Regions from separate parts of the Homo sapiens genome. Here region 2 is reported to be linked to region 1. Evidence: microRNA targets listed by miRTarBase, many of them from high-throughput screens and not tested one by one. Region 1 holds a microRNA gene; the other region holds the end of a gene's coding sequence.
What was found. Region 1 holds the annotated microRNA hsa-miR-32-5p (UAUUGCACAUUACUAAGUUGCA, at 1,813-1,834, shown strand). A microRNA usually pairs through its seed, bases 2 to 8, with sites in the 3' UTR of a target mRNA and lowers its output. Matches are read on the target gene's strand: a 7mer-m8 pairs with bases 2 to 8, a 7mer-A1 pairs with bases 2 to 7 and ends in A, and an 8mer does both.

Region 1 (4,496 bases):
GTGTAACAGCAATTGGGGTGAAGCTGTTTCGAAGGAAGTACCAGCTATAGCTTCCCTCCTAAGTCCTATATGACCATTGACTATCATCTTTGCTGAATAAATGAAATGATGAAAATTCTAGCAATAGATAATCTTTTGTTTATCTAGGTGATATCTTTCTGACTCAGAAAAGCTTTTGCAAATGCTCTACCAAAAAGGAAGGCTAATCTTTTATCTTCCCAGTGGGGTAAAGCTATTTATTGTAGCAGCCATATCAAAGGCTGGTAGGAATTCTCCAGTCAGTGTGGCTTAAGCCAAGCTTTGCAGAAAAATATCTACCTTGTTCATAAAGAACTTCAAGAAAGATGATGCTTCCATTTTCCTCAAGTAATCTTCATTGTTACTGACTCTTATTCTTAGAAAAATGTTTCTATTTTCACATCACAGCTTTTGAATTTTCTCTTGTTCTGCTTTCTTACAGCAGACCATCCTCTAAATGTCTGTCACCTTTTTTCATACCAAATATGCCACCTTTTTTGTTTTAAACTTAATTCCTAGCTGTTGTGTTTGCCAGTCAGTGGTAAGTAAAGCTGTTAGTCACACCTAGGTTCAGCTGATTGAAAGCACATACTCTGTTACACCATGATGCCTTCTTTCAAGAGGAGCTGGTTAGGGAAGATCATGACTTATATTTGTGGACATAAGAGGGTGGCATTTAGAAATTCAGGTCTTTGGCTCAGGAGAGAATTTGAGATTACAAAGAGTGCTGTCATCTACAGCGATATGAGGAAATCAGTCTTTTACAAATTAGATTCGACTTCCCTTCTTGGGAGTGCATACACTAATTATGTATTATAACAGTAGCTTATGTCTTGGTTCCATAGTATACTGGCATTTAAAAACCATTTGTTTTATTATCACCTTATTTTAAATACAGAAAAAATTTTAACAACCTTTGGTACCAGAACTATAATCTAATGGTTCTCAGAATTGATAGATTTTTATGAGTCTGATAAATATGGTACAGACTAAAGAATGGGTTATGGCCTGAGACATTTTTCTAACCAAAGCTATATCAAGTTATGTAATTTTAAGGCTATAATTCAAGGTGTTTTTTTTGCAGTTTAAGTTCCTAGGGCTGTTTCTTTACTGGCTCAAATTCAAGACTTAAAATGTACAGATTTTACAGAGATTCCTCTGAAGAGCTTTCTCCTGTGGAGAAGATGGTAGTGAGTTCTCTTTCTAAGAGCTCCTGTTGGATTTTTCATCCTGAAGGTTTGTGTTGAAGAGGCAATATGTTTCTTCATGGAAAAAGATTTTGAGGGAAAAATAAGTGGTTATTTATAATTTATGAATGACTATGAAAATATTGTAATGTCCTCAAAGTGCAGTTTAGCCTACAAATATCAGTGATACCAACTTTTATAAGCATCAGTCATTAATCATCATCTATGTTGCAGCTAAGTGGAAATCATTACATTCATTTATATGATCTGTGAATAAGTCAAAAATGGAATTGAAATTGGGGGTTAATTGCATGACCAGACAGTGATAGTGTCTGTTCGTGAAGCTTTGCCTTCTGAAGTATGTGGTTTCTTTATGATCACTATCTCATTGAAGTTTTGAACCTTACTCATTATTTTGATTCTGAATAAGTATTCTTCTCAGTTGAATACATTTGCAATTGGGTTTTCATTTCATGAAGTTTTGAGTCAGTGGCATGCATCCTTTATCCCCAGACCATTTTCCTCTCTTCAGCAGCATGTTGTCTCCTGAATGTATACATCACACCCTTCTTCCCTGATGCTCCCATTCTGCTTGCTCTGGTGGAGATATTGCACATTACTAAGTTGCATGTTGTCACGGCCTCAATGCAATTTAGTGTGTGTGATATTTTCACATGAGTGCATGCACACGGGTATGGCTCTTGCTTGCTGGGATTACAGCTTTTCAGTGCCAGTGGGTGGGTGTCCTGATGAATTAGATAAGACAGTGTGTATGCCATGCGATTCTCATTTGGAAAGTGAACATGCTTCCCATCGGTACCTTCCAATTTTGGAGAATTAAAAGTATTTGGATTAAAAAAAGTCAGCAATGATCATTTAGTAAATCAGTGTTTCCATTTTTTACTTTGAGCAAATGAAATATTTATTACAAATTCTCATTGATTTAAGAGTATAAACAATATTTAAATGTATAAGGAAGAATGTAAAGCTGTAAGAAAATGTATTTTCATTTATTTGAAGAAATCTCTCCCAACACTGGAATAGAGAAGCAGAAATCTCTTATGCATATTTGGGGAAATTAAATTAACTGGAGTTCTTAAATAATAATCAAGACAGTAAAGGTATGCTTAACCTACCTGATGAAAGATTCATCTCATAAACTTAAGTTTCCAAGGTAAATTACCTTAAAAATGTGTCTTTTACTTTCTCATTGTGATGCTTCGAAAACTGCTAAATTCATTTTAGTGGGCTAATAATGGAACTAGTTTTGAAATACACGTTTACTATTTGCCTATGTAATTGAAACAACCCCTTGTTATTTTTTTAGTTAGCATTAGAGTAAGCATCCACAATCACTAGGCATTGTCAAGGACACAAAACCATGTATTACTGTATGAAAATATTGAATTAATATTTACTACTACCATAGCCTCCAGATGATCTATTGTGATGCTGTCATTGTATGTTTCTGTGTTTCACCACTGTTTTGGAGGGTGAGAATGGAAGAATTCCACGTAAGCAGCTCATCCCCTGTGCCCTTCAGCAGCTCGGCCGTTCCCCTCATGCTGGAAATCTAATGTCAGCCAGGTTGCTATATGACACCCTGTGGAGCTGGGTTTCCAGGGCAGATTAATCAAGAAAGGGAAGATGTGACCTCTCAAGGGAGGTTGGGGCTGGGAAGGGGTGGGTAGAGAGAGATTTGTTAAAGGATACAAAAATTACTTAGAAGGCATAAGTTCTAATGTTCTACAGCACTGTAGAATGACTGTAGTTCAACAATAAATTATATCATTTCAAGTAGCTAGAAGGAAGATACAGAATGCTCCCAACAAAAGAAATGAGGCCAGGTACGGTGGCTCACGCCTCAAATCCCAGCACTTTGGGAGGCCAAGGCGGGCAGATCACCTGAGGTCAGGAGTTCAAGACCAGCCTGGCCAACATGGAGAAACCCCATCTCCACTAAAAATACAAAAATTAGCTGGGCTTGGTGGCATGCACCTGTAGTCCTAGCTACTCGGGAGGCTCAGGTGGGAGAATCTCTTGAACCCAGGTGGTGGAGGTTGCAGTGAGCTGTGGTCATGCCACTGTACTGCAGCCTGGGCGACAGTGAGACTCTATCTCAAAAAAAAAAAAAAAAACCAAAATGATAAATGATCAAGATGATGGATATGCCAATTACCCCTATCTGATTACTATACATTATATGTATTGAAACATTATTATGTACCCCATAAATATGTAGAGAGCAGTCAAGGGAGCTGGCGAGTACTTTTCCCACTGGTTATTGTATATACTGTGTCTCTAAAAGCTGACTGGTCTCTCCCACCAGCTCACTTTCTACTTGAGACATACCATATTGCAGTGAGGCTAGAATACTGGGAAGGGGAATGACAGTCCTTTAGAAAAGAGGGTGGAACCAGTGTAAGGAAATGTGGAGGAGGCAGAATTTCACTTTGGACTCTTCACTCCTCCTTTTCTTCATTATTTATCTTCTTCCTTAGACAGGTAATTCTTACTCAGCTGTGGTCTAAGGCCCTGTGTACACTGAGTTTATAGAGCTTCTGGACTGGTTTGTTATTCTCCCCATCCCACTCCTTGCTTCAAATATCATTCCATTAAAAGCAGGTCATCTGATTAAATCCTGAATTGTCTTGTTATTTTTTTCTTACTCAGTTTAGAAAAGTAGCAAGCACAATCTGGTTTGTCAGAAAAGAGAGGGTTGAGAGCTAAAGTTAAGTATCAGGAAACGTGTGAAAAAGTAAGTTTCATCCTAGGATTTATAAAGGATGAAGATCAAGAGCTGGTTAGGAAGAGTTAACATTGTAAACAATCATTTGAAGTCAATTCAAGCTTCTGGTGCAGAGGAGTTATTATTAAATATAGTTGTGTAAAGGAGGCATGGATATTCACACCTTTAGTGCCATACGGTATAAATATACAGTAGGCTTTATTAGGGGAAAATCCTAGCTGAGAAAAAGCTGATCCTAACTAACTCTTGGAACTTTTATTCCACAGAGAGGTATGCTTAGGTGGGGCATAGCTGGATTGGATGCACGATGGCCTACCTTCCAATGGACAGGAATCCTGCTCTATAATAGTCTATATATAGTATGGGACAGGAGAACATCTCTAAGACTGTGTAGTAATGGGAGGTCTATGAATAGGGAATAGGCCTTGTTAGAAAACCGTGCCTCTAGCTCAGTGGCTGGTGTGTCAGTCTCTTCTTCCATTGAGCTAAATCACGTCCATCTGAGCTACCAAAAGGAGGGAGGAAAAGAACCTCCAGAGTTT
Region 2 (3,000 bases), not on the chromosome of region 1:
CTCCTGGCAGGAACTGCATCCCAACAGCTCCAGGATTCACTGCCATGTTCAGCAGTAAGCACTGAATTCTACTTGTTGCCTAATGCCAAGCCCTTGATTTGTAGTCAGGCCATTTCCAACCAGTGGAGTGGCTGAGGGCCTGGGCTTAGTAATCAGGTTTGTCCACCAATCCCAGTTCCCTCAGCTGTGTAACCTTAGCGGAAATACTTATCCTGAGTCTCAGTGTCCTCATCTGTAACAAATAGATACAACTATCCTATAGATTCCTGAAGATTAAATGTGATCATGCACATTAGGTACTTAACAGCCTGGCACAGGGGAGGCACTCACAAACCGCTAGCTTTTGGTAGTCATCTCTGAAACAGAACAGAGCAGCTGCTCCTCCATTGTTCAAGACCTTAAACTCTTTTTACAGAGACAACGAGGGGATCATTGGAAACCAGAAGGCTACTTGCAAGGTGGAAGATGAGGAAACTTTATTTCAGAGGGAGATAGATTCCTAGGCAGCCCTCCAAGTAATTTGAAAACCAAAACTAGGAGTCTCCTCAAGAAACTGAAGACATTATTCAGGAAGAATTAGTATAAGGTAAAGAAAATGACTGGGTAGGACGCGCCTTGAACCAGTTCATTCCTTACACATGGAACGATAGCAGCCTCTACTGGCAGTTCATGGGTATCACTCGGGAAGGAAGGAACTAGGATCTTCTGAAAGTAGGGAGAGAAGGCAGCTTAGGTCTGGGAAGAGCTAACTTTCCCATAATTCAGACTGAACACAAATGAAGCACCCAACCTTGCTCAGTAGGCAGAAGCCTCAGTCTTTCCACTATACTGGGGAAAAGATTCAGCTCAACTGGCATAAGGACACACAACAGGGTGGCTAGGTGTCCATGGAGGTGGGTGTCCAAGCGTGCACACATATGAGCATGAGTACATCCCTAGCCACCAGAGCATTGCACCAGGGTCTGCGGCTTTAGAAAGAGGTCAAAGTACCTGTATTTTTAATAATTTCTTGACATGGTAAAAGAATTTTACATTACGATCCATGGGTGATAGGGTGAGGAGGAGGGGCAGTGGAACAGTCCAACAAACGAAACGGGAAACTGAGAAACACATGGAGGGAAGGGGGAAGGGTTTTAGCTGGAAGGGATCTGGAGGGTGGGTGGGAGCACTGCCCAACTAAAATGCAATTGGTTTGTTACTGAGTACTATTCGTGGGAAGACAGCATCCTGACTCCCTCTCTACAGAATATTGGGAGTAAAAATGATGCATCCCCGGTGGAAATATTATTGGGGGTTGGAAGACAGAGACAGGAAAAATAAGTCAGAAACAGACACTAAGAGTCACTGGCAGGCTGACTGCAGGTATCAACTCTCCAGCCGTGGTAGAATAAAAGAGCTAGGGGCTGAAGGGGATTAACACAAAAGCTGTTAACAATTAAGTGATATCTCTGGAAGATTCGAGAGACAGGAGGCAACTCTTCTATAGTTTTGACTTGCCCAGCACATTTCCACATACACAAATGTGTATATGCACGTGTGTGCATGCACATACACATACACACCAATGATTGCTTTCCCCGGAAGCCCGACACTATAAATAAAGAGAAATAGTTCCCAAAAGGAAAGCCCAACATGAGCAGCAGCATCTGGACCTCACACTTGCAGAAACCTTCACCCCAACTGAAAACTGGCTGGGAAAAGGCAACCAGGAGTCAAGCTCTTGCAATAATGCCAAAAAGGGCTGAGTCAGAGAGGAACAGGCTTTCCCCAAGCCCTCTGCTTCTCATCTCTCTGTTCTCCACCAACTCACCCTGGGTACCAAGAGGCTACAGTATCAGGAGGGAGGACGGGCCCAGGACGTTTGTCTGGGTAGATGACAACTAAGACAACTGTCACCTCCTGAAAGGTATGTGACAGGGGTTGTGGAGAGGGAGGGTATGTTAGCTAATGGAGTAGGAGTCTGTGTGTGCATGTCTGTATGGGCGTATACATGCATACACATATGTGCATGTGAAAACGCCCATTATAAAAACAACTGAAGGAGCTTCGGAATTGACTGAAGGCCTAAGGTATTTCTTGTCACGATCAAGATTCAAAGTGGGATGTACACAGATGGGAAGCCCTAAGTCATCACCAGGGCAACTGTGGGAGGATCCAATGCCCCACAGAGGAAAGAAACAGTAACCTCATGTGAGGAAGAGAAGTTCGTCCCCCCGCCACCCTAGTTCCTAAAAAACACCTAGCACTTTCCTTCCGGTTCCCTCAGCTTTTAACCAACTAATTATCAAACGGAAGAAAACATAAAGCGCAAGACACAGGAGGGAGAGAGGGGGAGAATGAAAACACAGGTATTTTTGTGCCAACATCCTGCACACACAAACCTGGAGTTCTCCAGAAATTACGACAGGTTGGGTGTGGGGTATTAGGGAAGGAAATAGAAGAGTTCCTGAGGCCTGAAAAAAGAGGTAAACACATCACAGAACTAGATGAGAGTTTCATTAGACTCTAACTAAAAACAGAGAGGTGTGATTACTATTTCCAGCCAGTTTCCCCATCACGATAGTCATGTAACAAACCAAGGCAATGTCGGTCTTGAGCCAGACTCACAGAGTCCCCTGGCCCTGGCCCTGGCCTCAGTACAGAGTCTCTGCATTGCTGCTCCGGGGCCGTTTGATCTTCTCGATATTTTTCAGGATCATGTCATGTAGAGTGACCTGAGAGAAGAGGGATCAGGGGAATCACATATCTGTACAACCCTTACCTCATCAAGAAAATGAGAGACCCCTTCACAAATCCCCAAGCAATCATCTGCATACGGTAAGTCCTTAATGTCATCAATAGGTTCTTAGCAACTGCGACTTGAAGGAAATTAAAGTACAGCAGGTAAGCAAATCAAGTACAGAAGGTCCTCAAATAACCTGGTTTCAAATAACATCATTTTGTTCGATGTCATTTTGTTACAATGTTAATGAAAAAAAAACTTGGTTTTGATATACATCA

Region 2: the mRNA of PSME3 is a reported target of hsa-miR-32-5p. Seed matches in the 3' UTR shown: 7mer-m8 at 950-956.

The regions. Positions count from the first base shown.
Region 1 is chr9:109,043,610-109,048,105 of GRCh38, reverse strand. It overlaps MIR32 (microRNA 32), which reads left to right and starts at 1,808; the gene lies at 1,808-1,877. The region is part of intron 14 of TMEM245 (transmembrane protein 245); the gene reads left to right.
Region 2 is chr17:42,841,212-42,844,211 of GRCh38, reverse strand. PSME3 (proteasome activator subunit 3) reads right to left here. Exons shown (of 11, transcript NM_005789.4): 11 at 452-2,714. The coding sequence ends at 2,634. Among named protein-coding and RNA genes, the nearest start is that of AOC2, 1.9 kb to the left of the region's middle.